3 linked regions of the Homo sapiens genome follow. The protein of the gene in region 2 purifies or fractionates together with the protein of the main gene of each other region. This does not show direct contact. Each region holds a gene or a part of one and is shown on either strand. Other genes may lie near its edges.

Region 1 (7,024 bases), on a different chromosome or scaffold from region 2:
TAAAATTGGAAGGCAAGATATCTGAGTTGATTTTTCCTGTTCTTTCAAAATATTGCTAAAGAAATTTGTCTTAAACTTTTTTGGGTAAACAAATGGGAATATTAATTTAATAAAATAGGTGACATTTTATGATAACCATGATGTTGACAAGTTTTACAAAAAATTGAAAATTCTATATAATCTTCTTTGACAACTATTTGCTTTAGCAGATAAGGTTTACAGTTCACAGAGTTTTTTTTTTGTTGTTGTTGTTGAATTTTCAAGTCTTGAGAAAGGGAAGAATTCATCTTGTAAATATTTCACTGTAGGGACCAGCCCCACAGGGTCGGTGGGTCTCTCCCTGTGTGCGGCGACGAGAGAGTGTAGAAATAAAGACACAAGACAAAGAGATAAAAGAAAAGACAGCTGGGCCCGGGGGACCGCTACCACCAATGCGCGGAGACCGGTAGTGGCCCCGAATGTCTGGCTGCGCTGTTATTTATTGGATACAAAGCAAAAGGGGCAGGGTAAAGAGTGTGGGTCATCTCCAATGATAGGTAAGGTCACGTGGGTCACGTGTCCACAGGACAGGGGGCCCTTCCCTGCCTGGCAGCCGAGGCAGAGAGAGAGAGGAGACAGAGAGAAAGATAGCTTATGCCGTTATTTCTGCATATCAGAGACTTTTACTACTTTCACTAATTGACTACTGCTATCTAGAAGGCAGAGCCAGGTGTACAGGATGGAACATGAAGGCGGACTAGGAGCGTGACCACTGAAGCACAGCATCACAGGGAGACGGTTAGGCCTCCGGATAACTGCGGGCAAGCCTGACTGATGTCAGGCCCTCCACAAGAGGTGGAGGAGCAGAGTCTTATCTAAACTCCCCCGGGGAAAGGGAGCCTCCCTTCCCTGGTCTGCTAAGTCGCGGGTGTTTTTCCTTGACACTTTTCGCTACCGCTAGACCACCTTCCGCTCGGCAACGGGCGTCTTCCTAGATGCTGGCGTTACCGCTAGACCAAGGAGCCCTTCTGCTGGCCCTGTCCGGGCATAACAGAAGGCTCGCACTCTTGTCTTCTGGTCACACCTCACTATGTCCCCTCAGCTCCTATCTCTGTATGGCCTGGTTTTTCCTAGGTTATGATTGTACAGCGAGGATTATTATAATATTGGGATAAAGAGTAATTACTGCAAACTAATGATTAATGATATTCATATATCTCTAAGATCTATATGGTATAACTATTCTTGTTTTATATTTTATTATACTGGAACAGCTCGTGTCCTTGGTCTCTTGCCTTGGCGCCTGGGTGGCTTGCCGCCCACCTCACATACCTGATCTTACTATTCTTTGGAATCAATTGATAAACTACTTTGATACATCTTAACTGGAATGTCTAACTAGCCTAAAGCAGTGATTTTCAGTGGGAGGTGACTTTGTACCCAGGGTATATTTGACAGTGTCTGAGACTTTTTGGTTGCCACACTGAGGGAAGAGGTGTGCTATTGGCATGTAGCAGATAGACCCTGGAGTACTGCTAAACATTCTACAATGCAGAGGACAACTTCCTGCAGCGAATTGTCCAGCTCAAAATGTTAGTTGAGAAACCCTAGTCTAAGAAGAAGACTGAGATTGTCTTCTGCATTTGTAAGGGACCTACTGGGTGCTGAAAAAATTGTAAGGTTTTAAAAAGGACACGGAAGAAGTAGATTACTCTTAACGAAATCTGTAATTCGAGAGAGAAATTGATATCTTAAGTGACTGAAAGGTATCATGTCAATAAAAATGCGTAATCTTTGCTTGGATGATCTTTGGAAGTAGTTTTAAGATCGAAATATTGTGTTAACATGATTTGGAAAACATCATAGTGTGCATATATTCATATATGTATATATAGGCGTTCATAATGAAATTTACAATTAAAAAAGGTTGAGAGGCCAGGCACCGTGGCTCACACCTGTAATCCCAGCACTTTGGGAGGCCGAGGCAGGCAGATCACGAGGTCAGGAGATCGAGACCATCCTGGCTAACACAGTGAAACCCCGTCTCCACTAAAAAAAAAAAAAAAAAAATACAAAAAATTAGCCGGGCATGGGGGCAGGCGCCTGTAGTCCCAGTTACTCTGGAGGCTGAGGCAGGAGAATGGTGTGAACCTGGGCGGCAGAGGTTGCAGTGAGCAGAGATTGCACCGCTGCACTCCAGCCTAGGTGACAGAGCGAGACTCCCGTCTCAAAAAAAAAAGGTTGAGAAGGTTGGGGAAAATTACTGGAATGTCCAGAATCAGGAAGTATACTTTAGATGTTGCCTTTAAATTTGAGAAGCAAAGCAAACACAGCCTACCATTGTCTTTCTGTTTCTGTTCTTTAAAGATTTTATTTAATGCCAAGCAATTCTTATGTATTTTTAAAAGTAGTTTAAGCAGAATTTCCTTTTAAAAATCCTTGCCACTGTAGATAATTGAGACCTTGGTTATTTATTAGCTGTGGGACCCTGGGCAAAACATTTCAGTTCTCACTCTCGTAATCTGTAAAGTGGATATACAACTTTCAGTGTATTGTTGAGATAGATTATGTCAAAAACCTTTGTCATTGTTGATAATATTGATAATAATAATGATTAACAAACCTGGCTGGGTGATGGAAAACAGTCTTTGTTTTATTTTCATAAGGATGTTTCTTCTAACTTCAGACTTTTAGAGGTATTAATATTCTTCTTCTTCTTCCTCTTCTTTTTTTTTTTTACTTCTACTTTAAGTTCTGGGATACATGTGCAGAATGTGCAGGTTTGTTACATAGGTATACATGTGCCATGGTGGTTTGCTGCACCTATCAACCTGTCATCTAGGTTTTAAGCCCTGCATTATGTATTTGTCCTAATACTCTCCCTCCCCTTGCCTCCCACCTCCTGACAGGCCCTGGTGTGTGATGTTCCCTTCCCTGTGTCCATGTGTTGTCATTGTTCAAATCCCACTTATGAATGAGAACATGTGTTGTTTGGTTTTCTTAGAGGTATCAATCTTCTATTGAGTGATAATTTTGTGTAGAGCTATCATTACATATCTAAACATTTCTTATTTTCCAAACAAATTTCTTTTAAAAAAAACCTCTATTTGCCTTTGAATTTATGCTTATGCTTTTACAGTATTACCTGCCAGCTAGTTTGTAAGTCAGGCTTTCAGAGGTTCAGAAAAGTGCCTGGTGGGTACATACTGCCTACATAAGTAGGAAGGTTTATCTAGATTTTTGTTCCCCACAAACTGGTACCAATAGATAAATTTCACAGCCCTTAGCTATTGAGATGTGTCCAGGATATAATTGTTTTAAGAGTAACATATATTTGAAAAGGTATGTTGAAATGCCTCATCTTTTGCAATATGATTTGAGTAGTATTGTTGCAATGTAGAACCTTTGTCAATTTGATTTTTCAAAATGATTTACTGTGGAGAGTCAGCAGGAAAATCCTCCAGTACTCGGAACTCTGTTGTTCTTAATTCCACTGGACAGGTGGAATCAACATAGGAACTGTGATGTGTTAGATACAAGGGTGACTCTGGTGACCAGGAATAGAAGCCAAGTGCAATGCCCTCAGAATCTGTGGCCCTGCAAACCAGACTGAACCCGTGCTGTTTATCCCACTCCTGACAGTTTATCCCACTCTTGACACTTCCCCTTGAGCTGCCAGATATTGTTGGAGCAGTGCAGCATAAGAAAGGAGAATGAACACTGGACTGGGAATGAGCAAACCTCTTTAATCTTATTCCATCTCTGATTCTGTCTAGTTGTGTGGCTTTTGGCATGTCTCTGACAAGTGACCATTGGTTGCTTATCTGTAAGTGGAAAGGTTAGACAAGGTCATCTCTTCTGTCTTTAAACTTCTGTGATTTGAGCAAGGCAAGAACAACGTGAGATCCTTCATTGGATGAGTGGTACTGCCACTTCCTCCGCATTCATAGAGAGAAAAGGTAGTTAAATAATGTATCTTTATCTTTCCTTTTTGCTCTTCACCCGATATTGGTGAGTAAAGAGCCACAGTCAATGACAGTGACAAGATAAATGAAGTTCCAGGCTCATGCTGATATTTGTGGGTCCAAGTGTAATATACTGTAATATATTGTCTTAACAGGTACCTGTAGGGCAGCTTGAGAATGAAAGAAAAAGCAGCTCTTTTTGCTTTTTTTGGCTTTGACACATAAAAGATGTCAGTATCTAGGTATTTCTAAACCTGTAGAGGGATTTTCTTTAGTCTTTTCCTCCCAGCCAGCACTTGGTGTAGTGGAGGCCACATTTCTCATTAGCTTGTCCTATGGCATATAAAAGTAAACAATAATGAAAAGGTCATTAGTGTAATACATATTTAGGCTCAGTTACTACCAGTTAAAGCGGTGCTTAAAAATTTAAATTTAAGCACCTGTTCACATATTTAAGTAGCATTACTAATTAAAAATTAACTCCTTTTCTAGAACTAAAACTGAGAATTGGTATTTTGGTAACCATTCTGCTAGGAAGCTCTACCACATTACTCAATATTATGGGATCCCTGAAGTGAACTGAAAGGGAGAAAGTTCAGTGGTGATGTTGCAGCTTTCTACCTTCCTTTGTCAAAACTTCCTGTTTCAGTAGGGAAATGGGAAGAGTGAGAGAGTTGTTTCCTTTCTCTTTCCTGTCTTCCTCTCTGAAGACAAAGTCACTGTGAACTCATTAAAAGGAGTCTAGATTGGTTAATTTGGGTTGACTAGCTAGATTCATTTGAAATGAATAGCTATAATATTTTCTTTGGTATTCTTTTTTTTTTTTTTTTTTTTTTGAGACGGAGTCTTGCTTTGTCGCCCAGGCTGGAGTGCAGTGGCACAATCTCGGCTCACTGCAAGCTCTGCCTCCTGGGTTCACGCCATTCTCCTGCCTCAGCCTCCACAGTAGCTAGGACTACAGGCACCCGCCACCACGCCTGGCTAATTTTTTTGTATTTTTTAGTAGAGACGGGGTTTCACCGTATCAGGATGGTCTTGATCTCCTGACCTTGTGATCCACCTGCCTCAGCCTTCCAAAGTGCTGGGATTACAGGCGTGAGTCACCGCACCAGGCCTGGTATTCTTTACTAAAACATAAATCATTAAAATAATTTGATTCATGCTTTGCTTTAAAAAACTGTTCAGTCATCTACTTTAGCTCACCTCCCTGGAAAATGAATTGTGTCAGAACATTCAGATATGCTTTCAACTAAATAATGTTTATGTTATAGATACATAAACAAAATCTTAAAAAATAAATACAAAGCATTCTTTATTTCACTATTCTTTATATGCAAAGCTAGTTTCATGGATTATGGCATGGCATTTTTGTTTGTTGGATGGTTTTTGTGTTTAATCACAGTTTTGGATTAACCTCTATGTTTTATATTAAGAAAGTTGACCTAGGAGTTGGGAGACATAGATTCTATTCTTAGTACTGCCACAAAAAAATTGTATAACCTTGGATAAACTACCAGATCTCTTTAGACTTTAATTTCTTCATGTATAAAGTGAGAGGGGCTTAGATTTGAAAATCTTTATGGTCCCAAATAGTTCTAAATCATAACTTGTGAATTTCTGTCTTTTGAGGAAAAAAATAGATTTTTAAAAAGTACTAAAATGACCATTTTGTAATACCATCTCCTGCATCTGTTTTTCCCTGTGGCACTACGTTTTCTTCTGGTTATGCTCTGAACATAACCCCCTTGACTCTATCCTACCGTTCTGCCTGTGCCCTTGTTATACTAATTTTAGTTATCCTTTTTGTTTTGGATTTTTTTACGTCTCTTTGCAAATACAGAGACCAAAAGTGGAACCGACAACCACGCTGGCCTGTGAATGCTGAGTCTGATTCTTTTATGGCATTTTTGTTGTCCAGGGAGGTCGAATTACCTTCTGAATTAAAATCCTATACGCTTTATGCTCTGCTATTCGGGAGAACAGTGTTATTCTGAAGATAGCATTGAGTTTTATAAGATTTGAGCCTTGAGACTGCCACTTACTATTAGGTTGCCATAGGATTCTTGGGCTAGTCATTTAACCTCTCTAAGCCTCAGCTTCTATTGCTTAATGTATACAACCTGTTTCTTGCCCAGGAGGCTGTGAGGATTGAGTAATGTTATACATCTGAAAGTGTTTTCTAAAATATAAAGATTTATGACCTTATTGTAGTTGGTTCCACCCCAGTACAATATGCATTCTGAAGTCAGTATTTATCGAGTACCTACTCTGAGGAGAATCAGTAAGAAGTTTATAATCAGACTGGGGATTTATATAAAGTTAAGTGTTACGCACCATAAGAAAGCTATAGCCTAAATTTCTGCAAAAGTTTAGAGAGATTATTTCTGGTTGGAGGTACTTAACAATAGGACTATATTTCTTACATTTATTTTGTAGGCCATTATGTATTTAAAAAGCCATTCTTGGACTTAGGCAGGCTTTTCCTTATTGTGCTAGTACCATTTGATTTTTATTCATAAATACACTAGCTTGGTTGTTTTCTATAACTAGCAACTATTTCTACTTTTTTTTTTTTGCGATGACTCCAACTCTTCATGTCATTTGCTAATTTACTTCCATTTTCATCTTCTGGTTCACTGTTGAAGAATACTAAATTTTGATCCAGTTTTGATCCAGGATTTACTTTTTTTTTTTTTTTTTTTTGAGACTGGGTCTTGCTCTGGCTGTCACTGAGGCTGGAGTGCAGTGGCATGATCCTGGCTCACTGCAACCTCTGCCCTTCTGGTTCGAGTGATTCTTCTGCCTCAGAATCCTGAGTATCTGAGATGACAGGCACCTGCCACCATGCCTGGCTAATTTTTTTGTATTTTTTAGGTAGAGACAGGGTTTCGCCATGTTGGCAAGGCTGGTCTCCAACTGCTGGGCTCAAGTGATCCAATCGCCTTGGTCTCCCAAAGTGTTGGGATTACAGGCATGAGCCACTCACTGCACCTGGCCCTTTTAGTATATTTCTTAAAATATCTTTCAAGATTGGCTTTGAAACTATGGTGACTTTCTAGCAGTGTATGCACATCCAAAAT
Region 2 (7,835 bases):
CCCTTTTGGAAATGGCATTCATCACACTTGCAATTATTTATTAAGTATATCCCCTATTAGAATATAAGCTCCATGAAGTCAGGGAAAGCATTTGTTTTCACTGATGTATCCACAGTGCTTAGTACATGGTAGCTGCTCAATCAATATAAATTGTCAGAATTATAGGTTGGGGCCAGATTATAGAGGGCTATAACATCAGTAAACCAAAGAGCAAGGATCATTATCCCTTTGCAAATAAGTAAACCGAAGCAGAAAGAAATGAATAGTTATTTAAGGTCCCAGAGACAGCAGTGATGAGGCCAAATCTAACACTACATTCAGCCCATTTCTCCTCCCTAGGACAATAAAAGAAACTTTGGTGGGTAAGGAAGTATTTCAGAAGAAGAAAATTAGGAATGAGAAGATGGTGCATAAAAGGTCTAAGAGGACAGCTTCTGAATCTGCCTGTTACACTAGTTGCCTCCAGATGGATAGCAGTTAGACTTTCCACACCTAGAGGAGCACTGCTGTTACATAAACAAATATAGCCACTATCACACTCTTCCCGTTAAGAGAAGAGAATAAAATAACAAACTTCTTTCCTGCACAGAGGAGAAGAAACAACCAGGGTGGGTGGGGAACTGTTGTCCTCCAAGTATCTTCAAAAAACCAAATGGGCAGTTTGGCCACCTGGATTGCTACTCAGCAATCCACAGGGAACAGGAAGAAAGAGGGGGGAAAGATCAGCCTTCCCACCACCAGCTGCAGCAAGGATAAGGAAAAAAAAAATGTATTGTATAAGGCAAGCCACTTGAAGACTACTTATTCCTTGGGAATTATGAGAACATTTCATGTAGAGCATTTAAAAACCTTGCTAATCCATAGGCAGGTGCCAGTGAAAGGAAAAGTGGCATGAGCCCAACTGCAGCATTTCATTGTTCACATGCTGCTGGGGCTAAATTATGTCTGTCACAGGAACTACAAACCAGACCAGGGGTCAGGCTCATTGCTGCTCATCCTGCCAAGCACAGACTGCAAGAAAAAGAAAAGGCAAAGAAATTCTCTTCAAAGAGGATTCTGCAAAAATATTCACATAGTCTACATCCACCCAGGAGTTCCTAGTTGAAGTGGAGGACCAGGGAGTGTGTTCTAAGATTGAAGAGAAAGAGATGTGATATGCTGGTGATAAAGGAGGGGTTTTGAAACAGAAAGGAAAAATGTAAACTGCAAATGGAGAGATAGAGAAATAAACAGAATTTCAAGAGATGTGGGTGGGATGGGGTGGGGTGGGGGGAAGAAATGAAAGTACAGGAGAGAAGGGTAGGGTGTCCAGAAGAGCAGAGCGTCATCAACAGAGAGACGCAGAGGCAAAGGCTAACTGTTGATCTTTTCCCAAATCCAAAAGCTGCTCATTGGCATCCCAATAAATCACTCTACTACAAAGCCCATACAATGGACTGTCCTTTGCATTCAGCATCAAGCAGCATTTAATGAAATATCACACAGCTACAACTTTGGAGACCTAAGGATCTGAATTTAAAATGAACAAAATTGGCTTAGCAGCAGAAGACAGCCAGTAAAGAATTTCGCCCATGTCTGACTCAGCTAGGAAAAGGTTTAGCATTCTAGAGTTAAGCAAATACTCTGGCATTTCTCCTTCTTTTGACATTCCAAGAGGGGGTGTGGTTGACCCCAGGCCCATTCATTTCCAAGGGTGTAGATCTCTCAGCCAAGACTGGCCCCATCTGTTGTGGAGCCAGCCAGCTGTTTATCTCAAAGTAACATATCTATTGCCCTAATTATCCCTATAACTCTTACAAGAGCATCATGTAAGTCAGAATGCTTTCTCTCCTGTTAAATGTCAGTTCGTTTAAAAAAACAACAATAACAAAACAACCAAAATCACTCTTCCATGGGCACCTTTCAGTAATGGCAAATGAAGGTTAACAGCGCTTCTAACTTTCCCTTTCTCTAATGTGTTAAAATGAACCCCTCTTCCCTAATCGATCTCTTCAAACCGTTATTTGTGAGTAGTGACTATGCCTCAGGAAACAGCAGCTCATTATGGTACCATTGTCAGTGGCAAAGAGCCTATGCAATGTAATTTAAAACACACAAGCACAAATCTGTCGGCTCCACTTCCAAACAATCTTGAATCCAGCAGTCGGAGAACGGAAAACATTTAACAAAAACGCTGCTTCCAGCAGCCTGAAAGAACCTTCGCCAGACACGTGAAATGTTTCTGACTGGCACGGAGTGCACCATTAAAGGACACTGTCACCTCAAATCAGCAGAAAAGGCGAGACAAACCACATAGACATACACACATAAAATAAAGCCCTACAAAACTTAAGCACGTTCATCTTAAAAATTAATAACTAGTGCTCGTCCAAGCGACATTCAAATGTTCTAAAGTAGTGCGACCACATTAATTCACTGTCTCCATTTCTCCCCACGCATCACCCCTTCCCACTCAAACCTCAGCTCTCGGGCCGTGTGTGACAGGACTGCAGTCCCCCACCTCTGCCTTCCTCAGATTTTCCAAGAGCACTCCCCAACATCCTTCCCAGCCCAGCCCCCTCTCTCCGCCTCAAAAAGGTTGAGAGGAGTTGCGACTAGGGAATTGGCAGGCACCCGTCCTCTGGCGGGGGAAGGTTGCTGGAGTTGTTCTTTGCAGTGACCCAAATGGCACAGAGCTTTTCCCCTTAGCTGTGCCTGCAAGCCTCTCCCCAATCCCCCCCACCTCCCCACCGCTCACAGCTTCCCAAAAGAAAGCCTTGAGAACTAAGCGGGAGGAATAACTTGGTAGAAGCATTTGAATAAATCACTTCAACTCACCTGGTTTGGGATTTTTCTCCCCACCCCAGGCATAAACAGAAATGGATGTGCGAATGAGTCACGCACGCAAGGGAAGGTCTGCGATGTCCTGAGTCCAAGGGCTGGAGTCAGTCCCTGCCCTGGTGCTGCTGCTACACTTAGCTCAGCTGGAGCGAGCGGCAATCGCAAGCCCAGCAGCAGCAGGGGGTGGAGAGACCGTAGCACAATGAATGCAGTGGGGCTTTTGCAATGACATCATCCCTCTGTCCAAACGTCCCCAATAGCCATGCTCGGGAGCGGTGCTTTCTGGGAACTGTAGTCTTCTTACGTCCTGAAGGGATACCCAGGCAATCCCCGAAACTACAATGCCCAAAATGCTCCAAGTGGGACGCGCCCAGAGTGAAGGAGCAAAGGGGACTCGGCCGCCATGTTAGGAGTACTGGGACGATTCCGCGGAGCCGGGCAGAGGTTTTAGGGGTGCGCAGGAGTCAAGTGGTGGTTCAGTGGGGACGGTGAGGTGGAGGACGATCTGGTCGGATAGCCGCGGGCACGAACCTGGGAACCAGAGGGTGGAGGCCATGCTGGGGACTGATGTAGGGCGGGACCGACTGGAAGCGGCATCCAGAGGCCCAGTGAGCCTCGGTCTCAGCTCCTGAAGGGGTTGCATGGGGCCCTACGCTTCCTTCTCCATTTTTTAGCTAAGAGATTGAGAGAGTCGGTTTACTTTTGGGCTTGGAGTATCATTTAGATCTGTTAACAGTACAGTTGAGAGAGTTGGTGTCTTTTGTTGAGGTGCGAGGACCCGAGGCGGCGACCCTCGCCTTTATTCGGAGAAGCCCACTTCCACCCACAGAGTTGGGGTAGTCCTCCGAAATGCATTTTTGTTTTGCCGTTTGTTTTCCAACCCCCTTTCACTCTCCCCAAAGCTTCAGATTCACTGATTTTTCATACAGGAATGATTAACAAAGGCGTCCGAAGAAATCGTTGTTGGAAGGTGACCAAGGTGGAAAGAGACGTTGCTTTGGCCCTGCAAGTAAGAAGAGAGAGGGAATAGCCTGAAGGAGTAACACTAAATTTAAAATGACACTTTTTTACCAACCAGCGAAAGCAGATGTTCAAAGGGGATATTGGCCAGGTGCGGTCGCTCACGCCTTTAATCCCAGCACTTTGGGGGCAGACGCGGGGAGATAGCGTGATTCTAGGAGTTCAACCCCAGCCTGGGCAACATGCGGAGACCCCGTACCGTCTCTACAAAAACATTAAACAAAAAAATTAGCTGGGCATGGTGGTGTACCCCTGTAGTTGCAGCTACACTAGAGGCTGAGGTGGGAGGATCGCTTGAGCCCGGGATGTTGAGGCTGCAGTGAGCCTCGATCCTACCACTGTGCTCCAGCCTGGGCGACAGCAAGCCCGTGTCTCAGAAAAGGCGGGAGGGGTGGGATATTATTGATGATAGGCCTTCTGACGTCTGGCAATAGATTCCAGAGTAACATCGGTCATGGATAAATTTTTTTTTTAACTAAGTGACTGAAACCAAAGTTAATTGTCTTTTGAGTGATTTTGCACAGTATCTCAAAATGAACTGTACTTTTTTTCTTGTGTCACTGAAACAGTGCTGTGTGTTCTTTTTCAGAGTCTGTCACACTAAGATGAGAAATGTCCTTTCTTCCTGAAGGTGTCTGATGTGTAAAAATATGATATACTTTGTGCTGTTTCCTCCCTTCCCTTTTGCATATTATTCTGAAACAACATTAACTAGTTACTTTGCGTCATTGAAGGTATGCACTTCCCCTCTATGTTAGGAGTGAATAAAATTAAAAATAGATCCTTATAACAAAGAAAGGCAGATAGAATGATTAAAAATGACCAAAACATGTTAGAAACAGTCTCTCAGGTGTATGCAGATGGTAATTACAAAAATACTTTTTCAAAAAATGATCTTCTGTGTCATGTTTCTGGGAACAAGTCAAGATGAATGAGTTTGATTTTTAAGCAGAAGTAGTATGTGTTGGTGTCATCCATGAATACAACAATGAAAAAGGCTCAAAGTTGTTGTTATTCAGAAACTTCTCTAAGTAATGGTGGTAAGTACAGGAAAAGGAGCAATGTCTACCATTTTCTTTCTAACCTTCGATTTAACTATTGTAATGTTGTAAGCTTAACAGAGACTTACACTTAGGCTTAATTTCAAGCTCTTCAATCATTTTTCCCGGTTGGTGATTCAGGTGTATTCTCATGTCTTATGTAAACTTATCATGAGTGTTGTTGATTTATAATATATTTCTTTATGTAAGCCATAGCCTTGTCAGTTTGAGTTATATGGAAGACAAATTGTAGGGAAAAAGAGCAACAGATTACTCAGAAACCTTCTGTGTGAGCTGGGCATAGTAGTGCATGCCAGTAGGCTTAGCTACTTGGGAGGCTGAGGCAGGAGGATCACTTGATCCCATTAGTTTGAGGCTGCAGTGAGCTATGATTGTGTCACTGTACTCCAATCTGGACAACAGTGAGACTATGTCTGTTTTTAAAAAAGAAAGAAAGCTTGTGTTTGAGAAGTGATACCTCTAGAATACAGTGATTTCTATAATTTGTCATGTGTTTGGGTAGTTTGAAGTTTTTCTATCCTTGTATCTAATGGACATCTGACCATAAAGATGAAAAAATCCTGCACTCATTATAAATTTTATTTATAAAATTGATATTTGAGGAGTTGGGGAGGCCAGCTTCTGAAAAAATAACAGTGTCCCATAGAAACACCACAACTTAGGAAAATATTGTTAAAGTGGAATTAGGAATATCTAGAGGAGGTAAAGCTTTTCATCTCTCAAAAAAGAATTAGGGCCAGGCACAGTGGCTGACACCTGTAATCCTAGCACTTTGGGAGGCCGAGATGGGCACATCACTTGGGGCCAGGAGTTCAAGACCAGCCTGGCCAACATGGCGAAACCCCATCTCCAAGAAATAGAAAAGTTAGCCAGGTGTGGTGGCGTGCGCCTGTAATACCAGCTACTAGGGTGGCTGAGGCAGGAGAATCGCTTGAACTGGGGAGGTGGAGGTGGCAGTGAGCAGAGATTGAGCCACTGTACTCCAGCCTGGGCAACAGCAAGACCCTATCTCAAAAAAATAATAAAGAGAATTAGGACATGGATTTGTATTAAAATTATAGGTAGCTCATTTAAGAGTATGAAGCCAATTGCTGTTAGAGCAAGGGTTTTTTTCAGTAGAGGTGTCAGGATAACCTATACAGCTCTAAAAGTATATGGCTGTTACCTTCCCATCCCTGTTGAAATCTCCAGGGTTAGAACCAAGTATTGTGTTTTTAAAACTATAGGTGAGTCTACAAGAGTTGGGTGGAGTAGTCCTCTACATCCTGTGTTTGTATTTTTGCAGTAAGTCACACAATAACAAAAGCTTTGAGAAAGATTTTAGGTTTATTGCTAATTATACCCATGAATGAATTCTGAAAATGTGTAGATAAGGAATTTACCTGGTGAACGGTTTACACATGGCAATTGTGGGAGGGAGAGGGGAGTGAGAGGAGATGAGATCAGTTTTAGCTTTAAGAGGACCAACCGGGCCAAGCACGGTGGCTCACGCCTGTAATCCCAGCACTTTGGGGCCGAGGTGGGTGGATCACGAGGTCAGCAGTTCAAGACCAGCCTGACCAACATGGTGAAACCCCGTCTCTACTAAACATACAAAAAATTAACTGAGTGTGGTGGCGGGTGCCTGTAATCCCAGCGACTTGGGAGGCTGAGGCAGGAGAATCGCTTGAAACTGGAAGGCGGAGGTTGCAGTGATCCGAGATTGTGCTAATGCACTCTAGCCCGGGCAATAACAGCAAAACTCCCGTTTAAAAAAAAAAAAAAAAAAGGGACCAACCATGATATCCTGACTAACCTGTATATTTCTTAGAATGAGGGTTTAGCCTAATATTAAGAAAGTCTAATGTTAAGAGACACCTAGTAAGAGCTCAACGCTGTGGTAAAATTATGATAGTTATGCAGAAACTTAAAAGCTGAAGTATCCAGAGACAATATATTGTTTAGAATTTTCTGAAAATAAAAATTTTCTTGCCCTAAGTCTTGAATTTTTAAGTTATTGATGTTAATATTTATGATCTTTGAACAAATGATATTATAATAGAGTATCTTTTAGGTCACAGAGACCCCTTTTTAGAGCTGAGAAATCTTACAAATTCCTCAGCCCATGTTTTACAGATAAGGAAATGGGCATGCACACAGTGAAATTAAAAATTGCTAGTGGTCACACTGTACATTGATGGCAAAGGCAGGGCAGAATTAGAATCCAATTATCTTACCTGTTCAGTGTCTTTAATGATACAGCAAGCTCACCACTGTTTCTCTTTACTCTTTAAACAGTGGATTTTTTTTGTCATGATTTTGATTTCTTGTATAATGCAGTTCAATACTTGTTTAATTTTAATGTTGGACTCTCAATTTTTAAGACAGTAGTACACATGAAATGTGCTTTATATTTTATGTTTCAACAAGAAAATACACATTTTCCTTTTAATAGAGGAGCTTAAGTTCCTAATTTAAATAATTGAGTATGAGCTTCAGATACTTCAGAGTGGTATTAATAAACTTTGCTTTTCCAAATGGTTTCAGATAAGCATTTAATATTCAAAGCTTCCTCTTTACAGCTTAGGAAGTGGTCTGGTTAAGTGACTTGAGTTCATACAGGAATATATCGGTATGTTCCTAATTCCCATCAAGTGTACCATTATGTAATCATATAATCTTGCTAACAGATCTAACAGATTACTTTTTTTTTTTTTTTTTTTTTGAGACAGAGCCTTGCTCTGTCGCCCAGGCTGGAGTGCAGTGGCGCGATCTCTACTCACTGTAACCTCCGCCTCCCAGGTTCAAGCAATTCTTCTGCCTCGGCCTCCCAAGTAGCTGGGACTACAGGCAGGCACTACCACACCCGGCTAATTTTTGTATGTTTAGTAGAGACGGGGTTTCACCATGTTGGCCAGGCTGGTCTGGAACTCTTGACCTCAAGTGATCCGTCTG
Region 3 (7,024 bases), on a different chromosome or scaffold from region 2:
CAAACAGAAGCTTGGATCTGCACACGTCTACGCATAGAGTGGGACCAGTTTCAGATTTAATTCTTCTAAAAAGAAGAATTCATCCATCCAGCCACCCGCTTACTCAGGAGCAAGCCTCGATCCAGCCTCAGGGCAGCCGGAGGAGCTGCACAGGAGCCTTTACTCATCAGCAGTGCAGCTGTTCTATCTAAAGGCTCAGTCGCAACACATACTACATCATTTCCGTACACTCTGGTTCTCTGTTGAGAAGTTTATGCTCAGGTCTACACAATGTTTACCTGCTGGGACTGCGTGTTCAGTGGTACTAGTTGCAGGTCGGTACTATCACCGGTATCTACAAGATAACTATCTGACAGCTGAAAGTCAAGTTCTGACAAATTCTGGACACAAACTTGAACATATTTCCTAAAGTGGAAAAACAAAAAGTATTATTTTGATATGTAAGAACTTTATTAAATATATCTTAGCTTTGTTAAGGAGACCCTCTCTGCCTGGGGAATCAAAAAAGCAACAAAGCAAAGTAAGCTAAGTTGTTGCATAAGTTTCCCTTCAGATTTCACACCGAAAAGTGCCAGAAAATAAACCTTTTTGGCCGGGCACGGTGGCTCACGCCTGTAATCCCAGCACTTTGGGAGGCCGAGGTGGGCAGATTATGAGGTCAGGAGATTGAGACCATCCTGGCCAACATGGTGAAACCCCATCTCTACTAAAAATATAAAAATTAGCCAGACGTGGTGGCACGTGTCTGTAATCCCAGCTGCTCGGGAGGCTGAGGCACGAGCATTGCTTGAACCTGGGAGGTGGAGGTTGCAGTGAGCTGAGATCACGCCACTGCACTCCAGCCTGGTGACAGGGCGAGACTCCATCTCAAAAAAATAACAAATAAAAATAAATAAAAAAAGTTTTTAAAGAGGCAAGTTCTGTGAGGCAATGGAAGAAAGAATATAGTTTCTGACCAGCCTTATTAAGTGATCATGGCTGGTCACCCTCACTGGCCTTTGGGGAGCCACGGGGAGACAGCAGCAGCCCTCCTCATTACAGGTGAAGACTCTCCATTGAGAGATGATAGGCGGGGCTTATATCCATTTCCATTACATGCAAAACTTTGAAAATATTAATAATAGTTACTATTTTTTGAGACAGAGTCTTGCTCTTGTCGCCCAGGCTGGGGTGCAATGGCACGATCTCAGCTCACTGCAACCTCTGCCTCCCAGGTTCAAGTGATTCTCCTGCCTCAGCCTCCCGAGTAGCTGGGATTACAGGCGCCCGCCACCATGCCCGGCTAATTTTTGTATTTTTAGTAGAGACGGGGTTTCACTATGTTGGTCAGGCTGGTCTTGAACTCCCGACCTCGTGATCCGCCTGCCTCGGCCTCCCAAAGTGCTGGGATTACAGGCATGAGCCACCACGCCCGGCTGAAAAATAATTTTTTAATAAGGTTCTTTTAGAGATTATTGATGTTTTTAACTATTAATATCTACAGTTCCCTTTGCTGTGATTTGAAGGGGAAAAAAGCTGCTAGTATAATGTTCCATTCTAAACATGGGTCTGACGTTTTTGTTTCCAAATTATCCACACATCATCAATGGATAAAAAGTTGTGGTGAGAGGCCAGGCTAGCATCCCGAGCCCATTGATCAACGCTAGCACCGTCACTAAGGTAGGACACCTGGACACCGTGGGCCTCCCGGTGCAGTCAACAGGAAGCACACAGCCCCGCCTGCCTCAAAGCAGAACTGGAGTCTACTCAAGCCTTTAGGGCAGCTGTTTTCCACTGGGGCACGTCCGCCCCACCCAGAGGACACTGGGCAGTGTCTACAGACATCTGTGGCTGCCACACCTGCAGGTGGGGAGTGCTACTGGCATCTCATGGGAGAGCCTGGGGTGCTGCTCAACACCCTACAGCACACAGGAAAGCCCCTACAACAGAGTTATCTAGCCCAAAATGTCACTAATGCTGAGCTTAAAAGCTCCTGTTCTAGAGGTTGCAGGCAATTGACAAGAAATACAGGGACAGGAGAACTAGTTAACAAATCCAGCCAGATCCAGAAAGGCGGGCGTCCAGAGGAAACCTGGCCTGCAAGTGAACAAGTCGATGGCTTGAAAACAGGGAAGAAAGGATGAACAGAGATCTAGTGGTCTGATGGAGATTTTGGACCCCAAGTCACACAAAGCAACCATAAAAGGTCATTTTCAGACAGTTGGGAAAACCTGAATATGAACTGGATGTCACAGGACACCAGGGAATTGTGGATTTTAAGACACAAACAATGGCCTTGTGGTCACATAAGAAGACATCCTTGGTCACCACGAAGGCCAGTTTTGAACATTAGGAACCTCCACTTAGAAGAGTCTGGGGAAAGAAGCCAGGGCCCGCACGCTACGCCTCCGTTACCGTGTTCCTGAGGACAGGAGGCTGTGTGTGGTCCTGAAGGGTACGCTGAAGGTCAGTGCGATGACTGTGGAGTAGATGGACCACGGGCAGTCAATCGACACCTGAGGAGGAAGCACAAAGACACTCTCAGACCACTCGCCGACGGACAGCACAGCCACCACCACTGCTGCCCAGACTCACCTGCAGTGCCCGCCCACGCCCTAGACATTTTATTATGGCTTCAACCACTCATTATCCAGGAAGCAAAGCCTTACCCAACACATACACAAACCAACGAGAAACAGGAAGCTATGCATACAGACAAGAGAAACGAACGCAGAACTGGCAAGACATGCACACATCACCAGAGTCACCTCAACGGCGGAAGAGCACAGCCGTCCTCTAAGCAGCAGACCCACCTGCTGCTCCCATACACGCAGGGCCGCGGAGCCATGCATGTTGCAATGTGCACAGGGTTTTGACAAAGTGCTTTCAGTCATGTATTTCCAGATGACATTAGCCAATCAGTAACTACTCCATAGTTAATGAATTATCTAAGCATTTAATCCATGTGAGGCTGAATATGTAACTGAAAACCAAATCAGTTTAGGGGCACAGTGAGGACAAAGCTATTACATCCCTTAAGGGCAGGAAGGAAGCAAGTCTCAAGCCTTATTCCCCACAGGGAAGAGGTGAATACCCCAGCACACAGCGTGCGTGCCGCCAGTGCCAGGGAAGAGAGGATAACACGGCACATAGCACAGGTGCCACCAGCGCCAGGGAAGAGAGGATAACACAGCACACAGCACAGGTGCCACCAGCGCCAGGGAAGAGAGGATAACACGGCACATAGCACAGGTGCCACCAGCGCCAGGGAAGAGAGGATAACACGGCACATAGCACAGGTGCCACCAGCGCCAGGGAAGAGCGGGGTAACACGGCACACAGCACAGGTGCCGCCAGTGCCAGGGAAAAGAGGATAACACGGCACACAGCACAGGTGCCGCCAGCGCCAGAGAAGAGTGGGATAACACGGCACACAGCACAGGTGCCGCCAGCGCCAGGGAAGAGAGGATAACACGGCACATAGCACAGGTGCCGCCAGTGTCAGGGAAGAGTGGGATAACATGGCACACAGCACAGGTGCCGCCAGCGCCAGGGAAGAGTGGGATAACACGGCACACAGCACAGGTGCCACCAGCGCCAGGGAAGAGCGGGATAACACGGCACATAGCACAGGTGCCACCAGTGCTGCGCGCTCCTGCTGAGCTAAGCGCCACCTTCGTGAATGGTGAACGTCTGTGTGAGTTAAGGGAAAGACACTTCCTCAGGTTCTTCAAAAGCTGAACATTACAACATTCGTCTTCAGGCGTGGACTTGTCTGGTGACTCCGTGCTTTGGAAAGACGGCATGCCTTGCCCTTTGCCCCCGCTGCTCTTGGGCGTATACTGCGGCCCCTGGGCTGTTTCAGGGCCCTCAGGATTGATTTCTGGGCTACGAGACTTGGGCACACCCTGAGTAACATGATGCAGCGACACATTCCATGAGCTGATATCCTGTGGCTCTGGGACCGAAATCACATCTTTCTCAAGTAACTGTCAGTAAGTACCAGCACCAAAGCCTAAAATGAGACAGCTCCTCCGTGGCTGAGCTTATGAGTTTCAGTGGACAGACACCGAGGCACACACGACACAGACCTCCTCTGGCCTCGTCACCGGTCTAATGGACATGACCCAAGTTTTACGCCCCTCATGCCTAAGCCGGCCCTAACCTCTTACAGCAAACTCCCTGGCCCCTGGAACTGAGAGGGAAAGGTAGAGCTGGCTTGTCTCTGCCCTTGCAAAAAATGCACCCCTTATCTAAGAAAGGGTGATTCACAGACAGACAGAACTGCTAAACACATGCCCAGGGCATCGGGAATCAGAAGGAGCCAGGCTAACAGCAGGCATCGCTACATCGCCTTTCCCAGCAGGCAGGCGGGCGGCGGACGCCCCACAAGCTAAGCTCCTCCACTGTCCCTACTCACTTTGTGGTCTGTGGTAACCATGCAGCGGCCAGTTCTCTGTTTGTCCTTATGCTTCCTGTGGGGCTCTGCCATCCCCAGCATGTCACTCTCCCCTCCGAGTGCTGGGGCTGAAGGTAAAGAGAGAACTTCCAGTTCAAATTCGATCACGTGGTACGCAGGCGCAACAGGCAGACTGATGCTCGTGACCTTGTCGGAGGACTGAATCCGGAGCGCGGCCTCAGAAGACTGTTCTACGAAGGACAGAAAAAGTCACTTCAAAGCTGTTCCCTCGGTTTCACTTGTCCTTTTCCTTACAGCAGGTGATGGCCCAGCAGTGAGGCCACTGCTCAACCTCTCCCGCTCCTGCGCACCTGGCAGGCAAACCCAAGAACAAGGCCCCTAGGACAGAGCAGCCCTGTGTGAAAGCCGGCAGGCAGGCGCCCAGACCCATCATTGATCTCAATCTGAAGAGAGGAAAAGGGCATTTCCCACGGGGCCCACCCAAGTCCTGTGTAGGTCCCTGCATGACTTTCTCCCGTTCCAGCTCATCCGCAGATCCACCCCCACCCCAGGGGAGCAGGGTCCTCCCCTTCCCCTTCCTCGTGGCTGGGAGGATGGGAGTGCTCAGGGCTCTCAACAGCACCTGCAAGGGCTGCTCTGCTTTTGCTTCTCGGGAGCAGGGCCAGCCCAAGGGGGACAGGGTCTGGCAGGCATCACCATGGAACGTGACCCCAGCCGTGACCCCCATCTCCTAATCCTCAGCCAGACAAGCACTGCTCGGCCACTCAGCGTGTGAACCACTCTCAGTTTATCACCTCAGATGGGACCCCAGCACAGGCATCAGGCCGCAGGGCTCCTATGGAACACGGACTCCAGACACTGTTGAGGGGCGCTCAGCAGGATGGCAGCAAGGCCAGGCTCACCCTCACACCCACACAGTGCAGGGCAAGGTGGGCATCCTCCTTGGGCCTGGGTGGGCGGCACCTCACCTCTCGTGTTGGAGTAGACCACAGCCCTGCTCTCCGCCTGGCACAGGATGAGCATGGCTTCGGCATTGCTAAGCTGCAGGCTGTCTCCATTCTTTATCGTATAATGGCCGGTAGTGACAGTGAACTTGACTCTCTGAGGAATGCCTGCCAGAAGGCTATCTAAAGGAAAAGAGATCGTGGCTCAGCACCGCTGCCAACCGGAAGACAGCATCTCAGGGCCCGCAATGGGGTGAAAGGGGCTCTATTTCTTTTACTATGAAAGATTTGCTCCTTTGGGATCTCCATGAATTCCTTCTACTTCCATTCCCTTCTGCCCTAACTTTTCATCTCAATGATGTGGACTACAGGGTTGAAGGAGAACCTTGCTGGGGAAAAAAGAATCCTGTGAGTCAAGGAGTCTTATACCCATCTTGGTTCAGCAAGTCAGGGATTATGATCATGACTACGTCTCTGAGGGTCACAAAATTTGCCTGCCCATTAGTAGTAGAAGAGAATCACATAATGAGGCTTAAGAAGAGACTGTAAAGAAAACTTGACTGTGCTGGTGCTGCTCAAATATTCAAAACCTTCTCTGGATTTTTCAGCTTCAGGCCACGGGCTTTTGGGTTAAGAACAGTCAGCAGTCAGGTGGCTCCCCCTCACTCCAAGACAGCAATGAGAGGCAGGAGTGAGCTGAGGCCTCTGAGAATCCTGCTGCAGGGAAGACAGAAGGCAGGCAAGATACCAGGACCGGGGGGAGAGTGGACAGAGACAGGGGACACTAGGCAGGAAGCAGGAGCCAGGCCATGAGCCTGGCACTGCAGCCGCTGGGCCATGGGGAGGGCAGGGCCTGCTGGCTGGTGCTTCGGCTCCCCTGCGGGAATCGAGTTCAGCTTCTCTACACAATGTTCCAATGGAAGAATCACTGGAGAGACTGACTGCTGTGTCCCACATCTGACAGCCTTTGCTGGTGGCCACACAAGAGGCACAAATGCAGAAAAATAGGGGGAATGGGGGAATAACAGAAAAATGCCCTTTGTGATTTTTTTCCACGTAGAAGAAACAGGCAAATAAATAAATCGTTGCTAGCCCGAACAAAGGAGACATTCACTCACTCTTGTTCAGCTGCCACATGTTCTTCAATCATTTGTTTATAGCAACTCCTTCCAATTTTAGAACTTATCAGAAAGGACAATAGCTTTGAATTTCTCAAATGCCATGCCAGACGGACAAGTTTAATCAACCCTTTCAAAGGAAAACTTTTTTTTTTTTTAAGAGATGGAGTTTTGTTCTGTCACCCACGCTGGAGAACAGTGGCGCAATCACAGCTCCCTGAGGCCTCAAACTCCTGGGCTCAGGAGGCTGAGGCAGGAGCCTCAGCTGGGGCTCCAGCCTGTAGCTAGGACTAGAGGCCGTGGCGCACGACTACACCCAGCTAATTTACTTCATTTTTTTATTTTGCAGAGATGGGGTTTTGTCATCCTGCCCCGACTGGCTTACCCATGCTGGTCTCAAAGCCTTGGCCTCCCAAAGTGCTGGGATCTGAGTATAGATCCTAACTAAATCTAGTGTTTAGCATTTGAAACGTACTTCTAAGCAGGAAATTATATACATATTTATGAAACCCTGTGGTAGACATTAGCTGCTTCTTGGCCTAATGTGACACTGTAAAATACAC

The links.
Region 1: the proteins of RAB30 (region 2) and VPS13C purify together in Homo sapiens (affinity purification with mass spectrometry; 2 studies listed by BioGRID and IntAct, with this or other methods). This does not show direct contact.
Region 3: the proteins of RAB30 (region 2) and TRAPPC10 purify together in Homo sapiens (affinity purification with mass spectrometry; 2 studies listed by BioGRID and IntAct, with this or other methods). This does not show direct contact.

Annotation. Positions count from the first base shown.
Region 1 is NC_000015.10:62,050,429-62,057,452, reverse strand, and holds part of VPS13C (intermembrane lipid transfer protein VPS13C), read left to right. Parts: intron 1-7,024. UniProt on the Homo sapiens protein: Mediates the transfer of lipids between membranes at organelle contact sites. Necessary for proper mitochondrial function and maintenance of mitochondrial transmembrane potential.
Region 2 is NC_000011.10:83,068,874-83,076,708, forward strand, and holds the start of RAB30 (ras-related protein Rab-30), read right to left. Parts: upstream 3,025-7,835; 5' UTR 2,818-3,024; intron 2,590-2,817; exon of another isoform or gene 2,459-2,589; intron 1-2,458. UniProt on the Homo sapiens protein: The small GTPases Rab are key regulators of intracellular membrane trafficking, from the formation of transport vesicles to their fusion with membranes.
Region 3 is NC_000021.9:44,085,304-44,092,327, reverse strand, and holds part of TRAPPC10 (trafficking protein particle complex subunit 10), read right to left. Parts: intron 5,527-7,024; coding exon 5,368-5,526; intron 4,630-5,367; coding exon 4,400-4,629; intron 2,496-4,399; coding exon 2,395-2,495; intron 406-2,394; coding exon 279-405; intron 1-278. UniProt on the Homo sapiens protein: Specific subunit of the TRAPP (transport protein particle) II complex, a highly conserved vesicle tethering complex that functions in late Golgi trafficking as a membrane tether.